Regions from separate parts of the Homo sapiens genome. Here region 1 is linked to region 2. Evidence: fine-mapped expression QTL. A gene starts in region 2. The other region holds a variant in brackets. All regions are shown on one strand. Distances are from middle to middle. Region 1 holds the start of LOC124904017 (a long non-coding RNA gene). Region 2 holds the start of CBX1 (chromobox 1).

Region 1 (10,451 bases), 85 kb after region 2:
GAGCTGAGATCATGCCACTGCACTCCAGCCTGGAGGACAGAGCAAGACCCTGTCTAAAAAAAAAAAAAAAAAAAAAAAAAAGAAAAAGAAAAAAAATCTCTGTATTGTTTAAGGAATTTCAGTAGGCAAATGTAACTGGAATGGTGTGTGTCTGCAGGGAGTGTGTTGAGATCTGAGGTTTCTTCTAGATAGGTTGCAACTGGGTCGCAGTGAGCAATGAATGCCATGCTGAAGAATGACTGCTATTTATTGAGTTTGCTACTATATACACCTTAAAATTACCATTGTCCTCAAAACAACCTAACAAAGTAGGTATTGATAGGCTCGCTGCAGCCTCAACCTCCGGGGCTCAAGCTATCCTCTTACCTCAGTCCCCCGAGTAGCTGGGACCACAGGCATGTACCACCACACCCAGCTAATTTTTAAAAATTTTTTAATAGACACGAGGTCTCACCATGTTGCCCAGGCTGGTCTCAAACTCCTGAGCTCAAGCGATCTGTCCACTTTGGCCTCCCAAAGTGTTGGGTATACCGCGCCTGGCCCGTTAGCCTTCTTTTTACAAATGAGAGAGCTGAGAGTCTGAGAGACTGAATAACTTGCCTCAGAGCTCATAGGTGGGATTTAAACCCATTCTGGTCTGACTCCATTGCTGGCTCTTCTTTACCCCAACCACAGAGCTAAAGAACTTGGCTTGTGGCCAGTCGCCATGGCTCACACCTGTAATCCCAGTACTTTGGGAGGACAAGGTGGGTGGATCACCTGAGATCGAGACCAGCCCGACCAACATGGAGAAACCCTGTCTCTACTAAAAATACAAAATTAGCAGGGTGTGGTGGTGCATGCCTGTAATCCCAGCTACTCGGGAGGCTGAGGCAGGAGAATCGCTTGAACCCAGGAGGCAGAGGTTTCGGTGAGCCAAGATCGTGCCATTACACTTCAGCCTGGGCAACAAGAACGAAACTCCATCTCAAAAAAACAAAACAAAACAAAACAAAAAGTCAGTAAAGAACTTGGCCTGTGTTCTGAAGGTAATAGGGAACCACTGAAGATTTTCAAGCTGTTAAGTGATATCAGCTCTATGTTTTGAGGGAGGAACTCTGCTAGCAACATGGAACCTGGGTTAAAGAAGAGAACAGGAATTCAGGGTCAATTTATGACCCCCAAAACGAAATATTTTCATTACAGTCACTTCTCATTCTTGATCTAAAACAGTACCACCCAGCTTGATTGCTGATCTTACTCACCAAGCAGCTTGCAAAAATCAAGTCCACTCTCAGAATTTGAAGAGTTGGTGCTTGAATTAATTCAGATAATTGCAGGCAATCATTCCAAAAAAGGCCCTCCAAAAGGACCATTTTGTCAGGGACAATGATCTGAATATTTAGGTTCTGAAAAGTATGTTTAAAAATAACAAGTCGGCCGGGCACGGTGGCTCATGCCTGTGATCCCAGCACTTTGGGAGGCCAAGGCAGGTGGATCACAAGGTCAGGAGTTCAAGACCAGCCTGGCCAAGATGGTGAAACCCCCGTCTCTACTAAAAATACAAAAAAAAAAAAAAAAAAAATTAGCCAGGCATGGTGGCAGGTGCCTGTAATTCCAGCTACTCGGGAGGCTGAGGCAGGAGAATTGCTTGAACCCGGGAGGTGGAGGTTTCAGTGAGCTGAGATTGCACCATTGCACTCCAGCCTGGGCAACAAGAGCGAAACTCCGTCTCAAAAAAACAAAAAACAAACAAACAAAAAAAAACACAAGTCTACTTTATATCTTATATATTTAGTGCCCTCTTATCACTCTCACGTACCCCACTCTGAAAATAGACACATACACTTCAAATGAAAGAAAAAGAAGTAGCAAGAGGGATCTGATTCCATTTGACCAGATCCACAATTTCTCTTTGTCTAGACATCTGATTTTTTTTTTTTTTTTTTGAGACTGGGTCTTGCTCTGTCACCCAGCCTGGAGTGCAGTGGCATGAATACGGTTCACTGCAGCCTTGATTTCCTGGGGAGAAGTGATCCTCCTACTTCAGCTTCCCATGTAGCTTGGACTATAGGTGCACACCACGACACCTTGCTTTTTTTTTTTTTGCTTTTTTTTTTTTGGTAGGGAGATGGGGGTCTCACTTTGTTGTCCAGGCTGTTCTCAAACTCCTGGGCTCAAGTGATCCTCCTGCCTCAGCCTCCCAAAGTGCTGGGATTACAGGATTGAGCCGCCATGCCTAGCCTTTTTTTTTTTTCCTAAGGGACAGAGTTTTGCTCTGTCGCCTAGGTTGGAGTACAGTGGCGTGATCATGGCTCACTGCAGCCTCAACCTCCAGGTAGCTGGGACTACAGGCACATGCCACCACACCCGGCTAATTTTTTGTTTATTGTAGAGACAGGATTTTGCCATGTTGCCCAGGCTGGTCTTGAACTCCTGGACTCAAGCGATCCACCCAAGTCAGCCTCCCAAAGTGCTGGGATTACAGGCATGAGCCATCACAGCCAATCCAGACACCTGATTTTTAAGAGATTGAAAATATGTGTTTTACTCTCATGGCTGCCAGTGAGCCCTCATCTGAAACAAACAAACAAATAAACTTGAGGATAGAAGAAAACTCTGGAAGTGATGAGGCTATAACCTTGCTTCCAGACAACAGCTTCTTAGTGAGTGACAGGGTGTTCTGGGGTGGGGATATATGGGGTGAGTAGGTGAGGACTCAGGTTCTGGGTGGAATGATTGGAAGACTGGTTTCAGCTGCTTACCATTCCTAGCAGCCTTGTGTTTGGAAGGTTGGAGGGCTCTTGGAACATCCTCTCCTAAGAGATGGCTGGAAAAGTCCAGAATTAATTTATCTTGGGGAAACAGGTAAGATAAAAACTTCTGGAATCGGCCGGGCGTGGTGGCTCACACCTGTAATCCCAGCACTTTGGGAGGCCGAGGTGGGCAGATCACGAGGTCAGAAGTTTGAGACAAGCCTGACCAACATGGTGAAACCCCGTCTCTACTAAAAATACAAAAATTAGCTGGGCATAGTGACGTGCGCCTCTGGTCCCAGCTACTCAGAGGCTGAGGCAGGAGAATCGCTTGAACCCGGGAGATGGAAGTTGCAGTGAGCCAAGATCGCACCACTGCACTCCAGCCCTGGGTGACAGAGCGAGACTCCATCTCAAACAAACAAACAAACAAAACTTCTGGGACCCAAAGTCCCCCAAAATCTCAGTGTTCTCCAGATGGCAGCAAGAAGAAGTAGCTCTCACAGGTTTGCCCAGAAGATGGTGCTGTAAGACAAGCCCCTCTTTCATCCTTAGCCTGGCCGGGATCAGTGACGGGACTATGAAAAGGCTTGCAGGAACCAGACCTAGAGGGCATCTCTACTCTCTATTGGGCAGGAGTTATCTCACAGTGCTGAGCATTGCAGTCCATTCCTAGATACTCCCTAGACCACAGAGGAGAACCTTGGGGGTTCCCACATCAGAGCTGTGAGCACCTCCATGGGAACACGAAGGTGAGAGACCCTGGGCACCTGGGACAGCAATTGTCCTGAGAAAACAGGGCCTCTGATCAAGAAACACTGTCAAGAAATACAGACCTGGCTGGGCATGGTGTCTCGCTCCTGTAATCCCAGCACTTTGGGAGGCCGAGGTGGGCAGATCACTTTAGGTCAGGAGTTCGAGACCAACATGGCCAACATGGTGAAACCCTGTTTCTACTAAAAATACAAAAATTAGCTGGGCATGGTGACACATGCCTGTAATCCCAGCTACTCGGGAGGGTGAGGCAGGAGAATTGCTTGAACCCAAGAGATGGAGGTTGCAGTGAGCCGAGACTGCGCCACTGCACTACAGCCTGGGTGATGGAGTGAGACTCTGTCTCAAACAAACAAACAGAAAACAAATACAGACCTTTTCCTCCAACTCTGGAGATTTGGACCCATTCCCCAAGGTAGCTGGGAGGTTGAGGAAGGGGTCTGAGGGGCTTGGGCACTGACTGAAGTTTATACTCTAAGGTAGAAAAAAAAAAGTGGATCTTTCTGGGAGAGCAAGCTAGAGGCCTTCAGATTAGGAAAGTGAAACTCAAAGGTTGACTTACCCAATGTCACACAGCTAACAAGGGACAGAACTGAGACAAGAAAGAGGGTTTCCTGGAACCCTCTTACCTCTTCCTCTTTCTGCCCTGTGTTTTCTGCAGATCATGAGAATATAACGTTTATAAATAGAATTCCCTTGACAAGGAGTGCCTTCCTGGGCAGTAAGAAAAAATAGCAGGGCTCTTGACTCAAAACCCCAATGCACATTTTTCTTTGCATGCTTTTTTTTTTTTTAACAGTCTCACTCTATCACCCAGGCTAGTGTACAGTGGCACAGTCTCTGCTCACTGCAACCTCCACCTCCCAGGTTCAAGTAATTCTCCTGCCTCAGCCTCTTGAGTAGCTGGGATTACAGGCACCTGCCACCATGCCTGGTTAATTTTTGTATTTTTAGTAGAGACGGGGTTTCACCATGTTGCCCAGGCTGGTCTCGAACTCCTGAGCTCAAGCAATCTGCCCACCTCGGCCTCCCAAAGTGCTGGGAGCCACCATGGCTGGCTCCAATAGCGTTTTCTAATTTTTATTTTATTTATTTATTTATTTATTTATTTATTTATTTATTTATTTATTGAGACAGAATCTTGCTCTGTCGCCCAGGCTGGAGTAAGTGGCGCCATCCTGACTCACTGCTGCATGTGCCTCCTGGGTTCAAGTGATTCTCGTGCTTCAACCTCCCAAGTAGCTGGGACTAGAGGCACACAACACCATGCCCAGCTAATTTTTGTATTTTTAGTAGAGACAGGGTTTCACCATATTGGCCAGGCTAGTCTCAAACTCCTGACCTCAAGTGATCCTCCCGCCTTGGCCTCCCAAAGTGCTGGGATTACCGACATAAGCCACCACGCCCAGCACGTCTGTTTTTTAAATAATGAAATTAATAAGTGAGTCCCATCAGCTGCACTTCTTTTCTGAGGATAATTTATATACAAGACACAGAAAAGCTTCTTGCACAATGTTCTTTTAATAGGATTTATGTAAACTCACATTTGTCAGGATCCGTAAAAGTATTCTATTTCTTTCACACATGTAATTTTTTTGTACCTCTATCTCAGTGAAGGAGGCAGGCGTTGTCATTCCCACTTGTGAGGTGATTGAGGATGCTCTCGGGTGCTGGGAGCAGAAGCAATGCGGCCTGAACCCAGGTATGGATTTCATTTTGAAGAAAGGTCTCCTTGTAGGGCACTATCCTGGACCCAGTGGGCCTGCCCTTCCTATTTATTTCTTAGTGAAACCAGAAAGTTTGCTGGGGCCAGTATGATGGAGCATCGTGACTGACAAATGGCTGGGATTAGTCTAATGGGTAGGCAGCTGTATATGGAGGAAGGCGATGAGGGATCAGACCATTTCCCCAGATTCCAGTGGAAACTTTGCAGGCAGTAGCTAAATGAGTCAGAGAAGATAAGAAGACTGGAGTACCTTGCAGAACACTTCCCATACCCTCCCACCTCCAGCCCCAAGGAGGATTAGGATGCAGGGAGTCTGCAGATGAAACAGTTGTTTACAAAGGCTGGAGAAGCATGCCAGGAAACTAGTCCAGGGGCA[G/A]TTTCCAGGGCCTGAGATTGATACTACTCCATCTTGAAAACTGAAAAAAAAAAAAAAAAAAAAAAAAAAAAAAGTGTGACTCTTTAGTTCTGTACTCCCTTTAGTTCTGGGAGTGCATTTGGAGTTTCCTTTAAATTCTATGTGGATACAGGATGCTGAAGGAGGAGAATCACTTGAACCCCAGAGTCAGAGGTTGCAGTGAGATGAGATGATGCCACTGCTCTCCAGCCTGGGCGACAGAGTAAGACTGTTTCAAAAATAAAACAAAAGGCCAGGCGTGGTGGCTCACGCCTATAATCCCAGCACTTTGTGACTCCATCTCAAAAAAAAAATAATAAATAAATAAAATAAAATAAATTGTATGTGGATAAATTGAGGAGAGCTAAGGTGCAACACATGAGAAAGAGACAAGGGGTGGGGGTGGGCACAGTGGCTCACGCCTGTAATCCCACCACTTTGGGAGGCCAAGGCAGGTGGATCACCTGCGGTCAGGAGTTCACCAGCCTGGCCAACATGGTGAAACCTTGTCTCTACTAAAAATACAAAAATTAGCTAGGCATGGTGGCACACGCCTGTAGTCCCAGCTACTCCGGAGGCGGAGGCAGGATTGTTGCTTGAGCCCATGAGGCAGAGGTTGTAGCGAGCCGAGATCACGCCACTACACTCCAGCCTGGGCGACACAGTGAAACTCCAACTCAAAAAGAAAAAAAAAAGGGGGCGGGCGTGGGTGCTGGGAAGGCAAGAAGGAAATAGCAGAGGAGAGACAAGGGAACTCCTGGCTTGGGAAGGCTCTTGCCTGTCCCACCTCATGCAAGCATAAGCACTCCTGCCAAGACGGGGGCCCTCCGGAGGATGTCCAACTTAAAGCTCAGATCCTGGGCAGCAGCAATGGGGAGGGGATTGGGGTATCCCAGGGCAGATGGCCTTAAGGGACCTATTTGTAGAGGCAGAGGCCCAGAGGCTGTCATATGCAAGCTGCTTAGGGTCACAAGAGAAATCCGGAGCTTCCCTGATGACCATCTTTCTTCTCCTCCTCTTTCTGACTCTCTTCTTCCTTCCACTCTCCCTAAACCTGCTGAATCCCTTAGGCAGCTGGGATCAACATAAGCTAGAAACTGATGCGTATACAAGGGAAATCGGGAAGCCTAGAAACAGCAGAACCTGGGAGGGGTACCTGTGTACAGGGCAAATGAAGGGAGCCTGAAAACAGCTGAATCTGGGGAGATGGAACTGCCTAGTGAGAGAGCAAGGGGCTTCTGGAAACTGCTGAATCCAGGGAGGCCAATTTGTATACCGGGGAAATATGGGGGAACCTAGAAACAGCAGGATCTGGGGAGACAGTCGTGTACAGGGGGCAGACAGAGGGAGTAGCCTGAAAACAGTTGAATCTGGGGAGGAAGATTCGTGTGCAGAGGGAACAAGGGGAGACTGGAAACAGCACAATCTGGGGAGATAGGATAGTGTACAGTAGAAGCTAGGGTGGCCTGGAAACTGGGGCTCTCAGGGGATGAATCTGCTTTAAATTGCACGGGGGGGTGAGGGAGCCTGGGGAATCTGATGTGGCAGGCGCGAGCAGGGACACGGGCAAGCACAGGGGTGGAGTCAGGGTGCTGGTTGCATGGAAGGGGAACGCAATGGAACTCCCTGCCTTGTAGGTTTGAGTTAGACCCCTTGGCAGCCTCTTCTTGCAGACAGGGCAGGGTAAGGGAGTAGCTCTCCAATGGGGAGCCAGGATTTCACACGGCAAGAAGAGAAGGGCCTTTGTGTGCAGTTGCTGCCCTGGTCCTAAAATGAGCAAAGCCTGGAATTCCCTAGGGGAAACAGCCCAGGAGTTGGAGTGGGAGAGGATGAGGAGGTTGAAGGAGCTTCGGTCCCCTTGCCTGCCTTCTTCCCAACCCCTCTCTGACAGGGATAGGCCTCTTTCTCCCTTTCTACCGACCAGCCTGACCTCTCCCTTCAGCAGTTCCCTTCTGAGTGACAGACAGACAAAGACAGAGCTGTAGACCATTGACTGAAGGAGGCCCCACAAAAGTTCTCTCCCAACCCACCATCCCCCCATACCCTCCCCAGAGGCCCTGAGCCAGCCAGGGCCAACAGGAGCTGTCACTCTAGTGGAGCTGCCTTCAGGTAGGTGACAGGCCTTCAGGAGGCAGGGTGACTAGGGGCTGGGAAAGGCCTGAGATTTTTGGGATTCTGTCTGTGCCTCTTGGAAACCAGAGTTTCCCAGCCGGTTGCCTCTGAGAGAGGACTTGGAAACCAGAGTTTCCCAGCTGGTTGCCTCTGAGAGAGGAAAGAGGGCAGAACAGTGGCCACTATTGCAGAAATAAAAACCTGGTTCCACTATTTCTAGCTGTGGGATCTTGGCCAGTTGTCATTCCTCTCTGGATTTCAGTTTTTTCATCTGTAAAATGAAGGATCGGTCCAGATCTCTAAAGGCCCTTGCAGCTCTAGCATGAGGATTCTTAGTAGCCTCGGAGAGAGAGCTCAGCCTGGCATTTCTTCTTATTTGCTAATACGGCTCAGAACTTTCCGGCGAACATTGGAAGGAGGCTGGCATTTGGGATGTTGTGAGAGTGTTTAAGCAAGCTTTCCCTGGCATTGGTAACACTTCTGGAACATGAGTGTTTCTACTTTTCGTCACTCCAAAGGGTTCCTCCCCTTGAGCAAAATTATTTTTTACGCCAACCACCTCAGGCTTCCTGCCTTGTGATTTAGGCTGGAAGGTGGAATCTGAACCCAGAATCTCATCTTCCTGTCCCAAATCTGCCTTCTTCCCTGCCGGCCTCACTCCCAACCTCTCTGTGCTCTCTTGCCTCTGGCTTCTGTTATTACCTCGTTTCTCCTAAAGCCAGGGATGTTTATGCTTGGGATCTTATAGTGAAGCCTCAGAGTCTCAGGGAAAGGACCCTCCTCCCCTAACAGAAAGACAGCCAGGTACCCCAAGGCCCCGAGGCATCGCACTGCCCCTTGTTCATTACTAAGTCCGGAGAGGGTTCGCAGTGCATCCCTTGCAAGGCTGCCAGCCGGGGGTACATCTGAGACCACCTATAAAAAACCACCCTCAGCCTGGAAGCATGGAAAGCATAGTGTGTGTGTGATGTGGAGGGGGTCAAATAACCATGGGCCTAACTCAGGCCAGGCCTGAGTGGCTAGAGTACCAGACCTGTGCTTCTCCACTCCTCCCTTTAGTCTGAGAAACCACTGCGTTTAGCACAAGAAGCATGGCTTGGGCTGATGCTCTGATGGTTCCAGAAACCCTGCCCACCTCCAGGCTGTGCAGATGAAATCATTCCCAGCACTTACAGAACGGGAATGGAAGAGTCTTGTCCAGATGGAAGGGGAACTATGGTTGCCTGCCTTACCTCTCTTGGGGACCTCAGGTGACCTGCCTCAACATACCAAGGGGGAGGAGGAGGAGTCTTCAGGGGACAGTGCTGGGAGCTGGACTCCCGGGGTTCAATGTCACCAAAGATGGCCTGGGGACACAGAACCTCTTGCGAACCGCACTGGGTCCAGTCCTCCCTAAACACAGGCTGAGTGCGGGTCGTCTCTCCCCCACTCTGCCTTCCTGGGCACCGTCAGGGATGCGCGGGCAGTTCTCAATGAGTCCCAAGGCTGTGGGAGCTGAAGGGGTAGTGGGCCGGGCGGAGGAGGGAGGGGGGAGGGGGGAGGGGATCTGATTAGAATCCGGGCCGTATGGCGAACACTGCGGAGATGGAGGTAATCACTGAGCGGGCGAGACAGCGTGCTCGGCGACAGCAGGCGGCCCCGCCGTCGCCATGGCAACCGCGGCCTCCGGGGCGCGCGGCTAGGCGCAGCTCCGCGTCTGCGGCGGAACATCTGCTTTGCACAGGGCTGCTGGGAGCCAGGGGGCGCGGGCGCGGCTGCTCCCCCCACCCCGCGAAAAAGAAACAAATTAGGCCAACTGTCCAATGAGGGGCCGCAAATGTATTTATTAATGCGAGGGAAAGGTTGTTCCGGAGCGCAGTTTGATTAATGTTTGAGTCTTCAGCTTGTCAGTCTGGTTTTGTCTCCTGCAAAAGGGGAAAAGGGAGGGGTTGGGTGAGGGGCTGGTAGGGGACTGGGGAGGAGAGAGACAACAAAGCGGGAGGGGATGTTAATAGCCAAATAGGCTCTTTTTCATGTTTCCCCCAGCCTGCCATCCTTGATGGATGGCTCAGACAGACACCAGAGCGCATCAGGGAGACGCAAGCCCCTCAGAGAGATGGCGGGATGGAAGAGAGGGGACCGCTGGAGCCTGGCTGGGGTCGGTGCGGCGGGAACTCCCGAGGGCTGCCTGGAGAGGAATGGCCCAGGAAACGGGCAACTTCTGGGGAAACCAGAGGAAAATTGCACTCATGTTTACAAGTCTCCCCTCCCCTCCCCAGTTTGCCCCTCTGGGCCCTGGAGATAGCACCGAGGTCGGAGAGTGAGGGGTCTCCATACTTTCTGGATATAGAAAGAGGCGAGAAGCTCTCATCCGTGTGTTAGGGACGGGAGAAGGGAAGTAGGCAAAAGCCTATGCTTCGAATTCTCCTTCCTCTCTCTTTCCTCCACCCTTTTCTTTTCTTTCCTCTCACCCTATGTCCTCGGCCGTATATCATGTCTTCACTTTTGCTCCGTCGTCCCTCCTTCCTCTTCGTCTCTTCTGTTGTTTCTTTCCTCCATCTCCCCCATGCCCCGTTGGTGACATCAGCTGGCTGTGATAGGAACTGCCTTGCGAAGATGTCTTCTGTGACCAGTCTGAACACCTATAATGCTTTCTATTTTTCCTTCTCTAGAGTCATGGGGGAACTGAGAGCCCCCTTGGAAACTCAAATTTGACGACCCAGTTTGTGAG
Region 2 (8,000 bases):
GTGTGATAGGGAGTCAAGCCATTTAGAAAATACTGGTACAGAGTTATGCAGATCAGCCAATGTTGATGCATTTATTCAATGTAAAAAAAAATCACATTTATTAAATTCATCACTGATCTCATCAGGAAAGTCTCAAGAAACTGCCTACTGACTAGCTGGGATTACAGGCACGCGCCACCATGCCCAGCTAATTTTTGTATTTTTAGTAGAGATGGGGTTTCACCATATTGGTCAGGCTGGTCTTGAACTCCTGACCTCATGATCCACCCGCCTTGGCTTCCCAAAGTGCTGGGATTACAGGCATGAGCCACCGTGCCTAGCCTCACATGTCTTAATATTAAGACAGCCTCAACCTCCTGGGCTCAAGTGATCCTGCCACCCAAGCCTCCTAAGTAGCTGGGACCACAGGTGTGTGCCACCATGCCCGACTAATTTTTTATTATTATTTGTATAGATGAGGTCTCACTATATTGCCCAGCCTGGTCTTGAACTCTCAAGAGATTGAGACCATCTGGTGGTGTGTGATTGTAATTCCAGCTAGTCGGGAGACTGAGGCAGGAGAATCACTTAAACCCGGGAGGCAGAGGCTTCAGTGAGCCAAGATCATGCCACTGCACTCCAGCCTAGTGACAAAGTGAGACTCCGTCTCAAAAAAAAAAAAAAAAAAAAAAAAGAATGGTATACAGGACAAAGGCAGTGATGGCCCTCTCCACCTTGAAACACACATATAAGAGCCAGAATTTACTAACACAATAAATATGATACATCTGAAACTGTTGCCCTGTAATGTACAGTTTAGGAAAATGATGACATTTAAATAGAGACCTCAGGGAACATGATGGCTGAACTTCAATATTAGAAGAAACATATGAAAGAAAGATAAGGCTTACTGTGTGGCTACAGATGCCAGAATTAGGGAAAATAGGTGGCATCTCCATGGGGAGCAGAATTCAGCTCAATACAAGGAATTAGGGATGGCAGCATTTTATGTAGACAGAAATATGGTTTGGGTGTTAGATAGAAATGAGATTAAATCAATCAAGAATTTATGGCCAGGCATGGTGGCTCACATCTGTAATCCCAGCACTTTGGGAGGCCGAGACAGGTCAAGGCCTGCTTGAGCCCAGGCGTTCCAGACCAACCTGGACAATGTGACAAGACTCTGGCTCTACAAAATAGAAAAAATTAGCTGAGTAAGGTGTGGCTCAAAGCTACTCAGGAGGCTGAGGGGGAAAGATGACTTGGGCCTGGGAAGTTGAGACTACAGTGAACCGTGATTGCACTACTGCACTTCAGCCTAGGAGAGAGAGTAACATCCTGTCTCAAAAAAAAAAAAAAAAAAAAATAGGCCGGGTGTGGTGGCTCACACTTGTAACGCCAGCACTTTGGGAGGCTGCAACGGGGGGATCACAAGGTTAGGAGTTCAAGACCAGCCTGAAAACACAGTGAAAACCCGTCTCTACTAAAAATACAAAAATTAAGGCTGGGTGCGGTGGCTCACACCTGTAATCCCAGCACTTTGGTAGGCGGAGGCAGTGGGACCACTTGAGGTCAGGAGTTCAAGACCAGTCTGGCCAACATGGTGAAACCTCCCTCTACTAAAATTACAAAAATTAGCCAGGCACGGTGGCGGGCGACTGTAAACCCAACTACTCAGGAGACTGAGGCTGGATAATTGCTTGAACCCGGGAGGTGGAGGTTGCAGTGAGCCGAGATCTCACCACTGCCCTCCAGCCTGGGTGACAGAGCAAGACTCAGTCTCGGGAAACAAAAAAATTAGCTGGGCATGGTGGTGGGCACCTGTAATCCCAGCTACTCGGGAGACCAAGGCTGGATAATTGCTTGAACCTGGGAGGTGGAGGTTGCAGTGAACCGGATCATGCCACTGCACTCCAGCCTGGGTGACAGAGTTAGACTCCGTCTCAAAAAATAATAATAATAATAAATAAATAAAATAAAATAAAAAATAAACCAGAAGTGGTGGCTCACGCCTGTAATCTTAGCACTTTGGGCGGGTGGATGCCTGAACTCAGGAGTTCAAGACCAGCCTGGGCAACATGGTGAAACCCCCGTCTCTACTAAAATACAAAAAAATTAGCTGTGCATGGTGGCATGCACTTGTAATCCCAGTTACTTGGGAGGCTGAGGCAGGAGAAGTGCATGAACCCGGGAGGCGGAGGTTGCAGTGAGCCGTGATCTTGCCATTGCACTCCAGCCTGGGCGACAGTGCAAGACTCCACCTCAGGGAAAAAAAACAAAAAAAGCACTCATTAATAGTAGCTAATTATCATTACAACTAATTTTCTCATCATCATCAGTCAAAAACAGTACACTACAGGAGGAAGTGAGGAGATGCTTGCTTCTCACTTGCTTCTTCCTAGAAACCCAGCCCAAATGTTTCAGGAAGAATTGCTCTCTTTGTGTCCGGAGTTGATTCCTTCCGGTGGGTTTGTGGTCTCCCTGACTTAAACAATGAAGCCGCGGACCTTCATGGTGTTAAAAACAGCTCTTAAAGCTGGCAGGGACCCAAAGAGTGAGCAGCAGCAAGATTTGTTGTGAAGAGCGAAAGAACGCGAAAGAACAAGGCTTCCATAGCGTGGAAACCGACCTGAGCAGGTTGCTGCTGCGGGCTAACAGGAATGGGTGGGGGGCAGGGGGCCAGCTTTTACACCCTTGTTTGTCCCTGCCCATTTGCTATTTCTGTCCTATCAGAGTGCCCTTTTTTCAATCCTCCCTGTGATTGGCTACTTTTAGATTCCTGCATTTTACAGAGCGCTGATTGGTGCATTTTGCAGAGTGCTGATTGGTGCATTTTACAATCCTCTTGCTAGCTACAGAGGGCTGATTGGTGTGTTTTTACAGAGTGCTGATTGGTATATTTTACAATCCCCTTGCTAGGTATAGAGCGCTGATTGGTGCATTTCACAATCCTCTTGTAAGACAGAAAAGTTCTCCAAGTCCCCACTCGACCCAGGAAGTCCAGCTGGCTTCACCTCTCATCTTCTCTGTGCTTTCTTGAAGCCCTTTTAACTAAACTCTATTATGATATTGCTGGGCTGGGTTTTTCTTACATGACAGTTCTCCAGAGCCGTGAACAGTGCCTGCATCAGCAAAACTGTCTTATAAATGCAAACTCCTGCCCTGAACAGTGCCTGCATCAGCAAAACTGTCTTATAAATGCAAACTCTTGCCTTTTGGGGTAGAGTGCAATAGAGTTTCCCTCTTCCTCCTGATTAGAAGGATACTTTAAAATAAAAAAATAAAACTTTAGTTATATTGTGGCTTAAAAACATGTTTTTTTCCTAATTGTGTGTTTCCTTGGGATGATTGGGTGAAAGGTGCTGACGGAGATTAATGACACTGAAAAAGGTGAGCACAACTTACAATGAAAAAGAGGACATTTTTGTGGCGCAGCCAGTGAAAAGGGGGAAATTCAGGAAGCTATGAGAGGCCTATGGGGGGACCTAACCTACTCTAGGGAATCAGGGAAGACCTCAAAGGGGAAGTAATCTTAACACTGAACAGTATTTTTTTTTTTAGACGAAGTTTCGCTCTTGTTGCCCAGGCTGGAGTGCAATGGCGCGATCTCGGCTCACTGTAACCTCCACCTCCTGGGTTCAAGCGATTCTCCTCCCTCAGCCTCCCGAGTAGCTGGCACTACAGGCGCCCGCCACGACGCCCAGCTAATTTTTGTATTTTAGTAGAGATGGGGTTTCACCATGTTGGCCAGGCTGGTCTTGAAACCCTGACCTCAAGTGATCCACCCACCTCCGCCTCCCCAAGTGTTGGGATTATAGGCTTGAGCCACCGTGCCGGCGTGAGTAGGAATTTTACAGAGATTTGAGGAGGCAGAGATTGAGGACTAAGAAATCATTGGAAATTTGAGGCAGCGGCGATATGATAAAGTTCTGGTGAAGAATCTAAGATTCAAAAATTTTGAGGATGTGAATTACAGAACTGTCCAGAAGTGGTTGATTTTTTGGGGGCCAAGCATCAGGGGGCTCGCTTATAAAAATCATATGTTCTAATTTTTTTTTTTTTTTTTTTTTGAGATGGAGTCTCGCTCCATCGCCCAGGCTGGATCGCAGTGGCTGGATCTCGGCTCACTGCAAGCTCCGCCTCCCAAGTTCAAGCAATTCTTGTCTCAGCCTCCTGAGTAGCTGGGACTACAGGCACCTGCCACCACGCTCGGCTAATTTTTGCATTTTTAGTAGAGACAGGGTTTCACCTTGTTGGTAAGACTGGTCTCGAACCCCTGACCTCAGGTGATCCACCCGCCTCGGCCTCCCAAAGTGCTGGGATGACAGGCGTGAGCGACTGCCCCTGGCCCATATGTTCTAATATTCTAGGTTACAACGCTCTACGCTGCAATCTCTCCACCGTTACAGTTTAAAAACTATAAGTCCCTACCACCCTCGCCTACTGTGCGTGCGCGGCGCGCGGCGCTTCGGGCCTTGTAGTCTTGGACAGACCCCCGAGGCCCATGGTGCCGTGCGGCGGGTCGTTGCGCCTGCGCGGTGCGAGCGGCGGGCAGCGCAGACTGCGAGGCTCTTTTGTTCGGCTGAGGGGAGGGCCGTTGGCCGGGGCCTGCGGTACGCCGCTTCAGTGAGGGACGCCACTGCGGCCACCCGGCTTGCTGCCTTCCTGGGCGCCACTCCCCCAGGCGACCCGACGCGACGCGCCAGCAGCGCAGCACCGATTCCTCTCGGGCTCTTGGGCGCTGCTCTGAGGTGAGGAGCCCGCTGGAGGCGGGAGAGCTGGGGGAGGGGGCGCGGCGGCGGCGGCGGCGGGAGCCCTGCGTGAGGGAACGCGCTTTCGAGGCGGAGGTTAGGAGCGGGGAGCGCGCCCGGGTCCAGCGTCCTGCTTCTCCGCTTCCCGCGCTGAGCTCTTCGCCTGTCGCTGAGGCGTCGGTGCCAGCTGCGTGAAGGATGGAGAGGGCGGGGCGCGAATCCTGAGCCAGAGACTGAGTGCTTGGGGGTGGGCCGAGCACTTGGGGGCCGCTCTTCGGGGCCCGGGTGGTCTGGAACAATGTTGCTTGGCTGGGCGGCTGCGGGATAGGGCGGAAGGGGACAGGCTTGAGGCTTGGATAGGCGTGAGGAGGCGCATACGACCGCACAACCCGAGGTTTGTAACTGTATTCGGAAGACGCCGGGTCCGGCTGGGACTGCCAGAGGAACCTGGCTTTGCAGGACTACGGAGGAGTAACGTCGAGTGAATTGGAAGAGGGCCCAGGGCCGCACAAGGTGTGCTGATTGGAGGAGGAGATGTGTGGAATAAATTGGGAAAGGGGACACGGAGGGGGAGGGGCAGGCGTTTGCTGGGCCTGACTCTGGAAGGGGAGGAGCTGTTAGGATAAGTAGGGCGGAGATCCCGAGAATATTTCTATAAGGTATGTAAGAAAAAAGGGGAAAGCAGGCCGCCCTTGCATCCTGATGGGTCCTTACAGTGGGGAGGCTGTAAGAATAATGTGCGAAGAAAGGATGGAATACGCTTTTTTCAGTTTTCCAGGTTTCCTACTACCTTCACTCCATGATTCCTTTGGGGAGTTAAAAAAGTCCAAGTGCAGTTCTTGCTTTGATTCAAAATTAGTTCCGTACGTTTTTGTGTGGGATCGTAACTGGTCTCACAAAGGTGATGAAATTGTAAAAATATGTAGATGAGTTAATAGTTGAGGAACGGCGTGAGGTAGTGAGAGATTGTGAGATCGTGTGAGGTGCGAGAAATTGGGAGACATAGGAAAATTATGTGAGATTGTGAGGTAATATTTGTTTCGTGGGCCCTTCTGTTTTTAGCCAGCTTTTCCTTGTTGGAAAATTTGAATAGAGTGAGCTATATTTTACCTCTTTTTTTTTTTTTTTTTGAGAAGAGTCTTCCTCTGTTGCCCAGGCTGGAGTGCAGTGGTGCGATCTTGGCTCACTGCAACCTCCACCTCCCGGATTCATGCGATTCTCTTGCCTCAGCCTCCCGACTAGCTGGGATTACAGGCACACGCCACCACGCCCGGCTAATTTTTGTATTTTTAGTAGAGACGGGGTTTCACCGTACTGGTCACGCTGGTCTCGAACTCCTGACCTCGTGATCCTCCCGCGTCGGCCTCCCAAAGTGCTGGGATTATAGGCGTGAGCCACTGCGCCTGGCCATATTTTACCTCTTTTTCAAAGTTTCAAATGAGGGTTTTTCATAAATTGGTGTTACATTTAGACGTGTTGGTTTAACGCAATTGAGGTGGAATTTACAAAAAGTTCAGCTATAATCAGTTATATACTAGAACCCCTAGCCCAGGGTAAAGTAGCCTCCTCAATTGTGTTAAGAGTCACATCAGCAGTTTGGAAAGATTGTGAAAGGTCCAAGGCTTTGGAATAGATTCAGGAATACAATGGGGAAATTAATGCCGGTGTTCCTCCCTAGGTGCCTTATAGACTTTTATATGAAAGTGGTGTGATTGAAAAGCACTTGTATTGAAACCGGTGGCACCTTAATGAAGCTTCACGGGAGTGGAGGACCTGAAGTCGTTTACGGTTTTCCCTGTGGTGATATTTTTCTTCAATGGCTGCTGTATCCTAAATTGTTTCTCATTAAAAAAATAAATAGTAGGGTCGGGCGCAGTGGCTCAAGCCTGTCATCCCAGCACTTTGGGAGTCTGAGGTGGGCGGATCATGAGGTCAAGAGATCGAGACCATCCTGGCCAACCAACATGGTGAAACCCTGTCTCTACTAAAAATACAAAATTAGCTGGGCCTAGTGGCGCATGCCTGTAGTCCCAGCTACTCGGGAGGCTGAGGCAGGAGAATCGCTTGAACCCGGGAGGCAGAGGTTGCAGTGAGCCGAGATCTGCACCACTGCACTCCAGCCCGGGCAACAGAGCGAGACTCTGTCTCAAAAAAAAGAAAAGATAGATGATAGGTAGATAGATGGTGTGTGAAATAAATAGTTTTGAATGTAAATAGAAGCCTAGTGGTAAGTAAGTTACCCTGGTCTTCTGCATTTCTGAATACAGGATACCTATAACTTACAAACTATACCTCTAAAGAAAGATAGCACTCATTCTTGTGCCCATTTTAAGGACTAGGAAAATGTTTCTCTTTGTTGTTCACACCATTTGAAAATAATTCATTAAATTTTGGCATCCTCTAGTGGTTTATCTAGCAAAACCTCCCTTTTTTAAAAAAAAATCCTATCTGCAGTGGTGTAAGAGATTTTGCATTAGATTTGGTAGATTTTCACTTCATAGGTTCTTTCCACGAAGAGTTTCTGGTGTAGAAGGCTAATTGCTAGTTTATGGGCTCCCATAAAATGGAGCCATACTGGCCCCATCTCTACTAAAAATACAAAATTAGCTGGGCGTGGTGGTGCACACCTGTAATCCCAGCTACTTGGGAGGCTGAGGCAGGAGAATCGTTTGAACCCGGGAGGCAGAGGTTGCCATGAGCCGAGATCGCGCTATTGCACTCCAGCCTGGGCAACAAGAGCGAAACTCTGTCTCAAAAAAAGAAAAATGAAAAAATGGGGACGCACCTCTTGTTCATTAGTGCCTGGCACATAGTAGGCCGTTCAGATTGTTGATGAATGAATGATGAATAGGGGAGCTTTGAGATCCATTCTGAGAACTCAGCCAAATTAATGTGCATAGTAGTTTGCTTGTCCTGTGTCTGTGACATTTGGCAGAGTTAAGCTGTTGCTTTGCCATGTTTGTCTTAGCCTCAGTTAGTTTCTTTTTGTTTGTTTGTTTGTTTGTTTTTTGTTTTTTTAAGACAGAGTGTCGCTCTGTTGCCAGGCTGGAGTGCAGTGGTGGCATCATGGCTCACTGAAGCCTCAACCTCCTGGACACAAGCAGTCCTCCCACCACAGCCTCTTGAGTAGCTAGGACTACAGTCTCATGCCACCATGCATGGCTTCTTTTTTGTGGGGACAGTCTCTGTTGCCCAGAATGGTTAGCTTCAGTTTTGTACTCACTCTGGTACTAAATATAGAAAAGGTATACAGGCTGTGCAACTGGCCGT

The links. PIP is the estimated chance that this variant, and not a neighbour inherited with it, causes the effect.
Region 1: its variant is fine-mapped to the expression of CBX1 in whole blood (TOPMed, PIP above 0.99).

Annotation. Positions count from the first base shown.
Region 1 is chr17:48,011,334-48,021,784 of GRCh38, reverse strand. LOC124904017 (a long non-coding RNA gene) reads right to left here and starts at 10,407. Exons shown (of 2, transcript XR_007065826.1): 1 at 10,192-10,407; 2 at 9,545-9,692. RefSeq lists enhancers at 3,982-4,081, 5,759-6,258, 6,259-6,760, 10,162-10,221 and a silencer at 9,274-9,323. The variant G/A (reference allele first, on the strand shown) is at 5,612.
Region 2 is chr17:48,097,998-48,105,997 of GRCh38, reverse strand. CBX1 (chromobox 1) reads left to right here and starts at 4,520. Exons shown (of 5, transcript NM_001127228.2): 1 at 4,520-4,730. RefSeq lists enhancers at 4,102-4,361, 4,188-4,787 and a silencer at 4,732-4,781.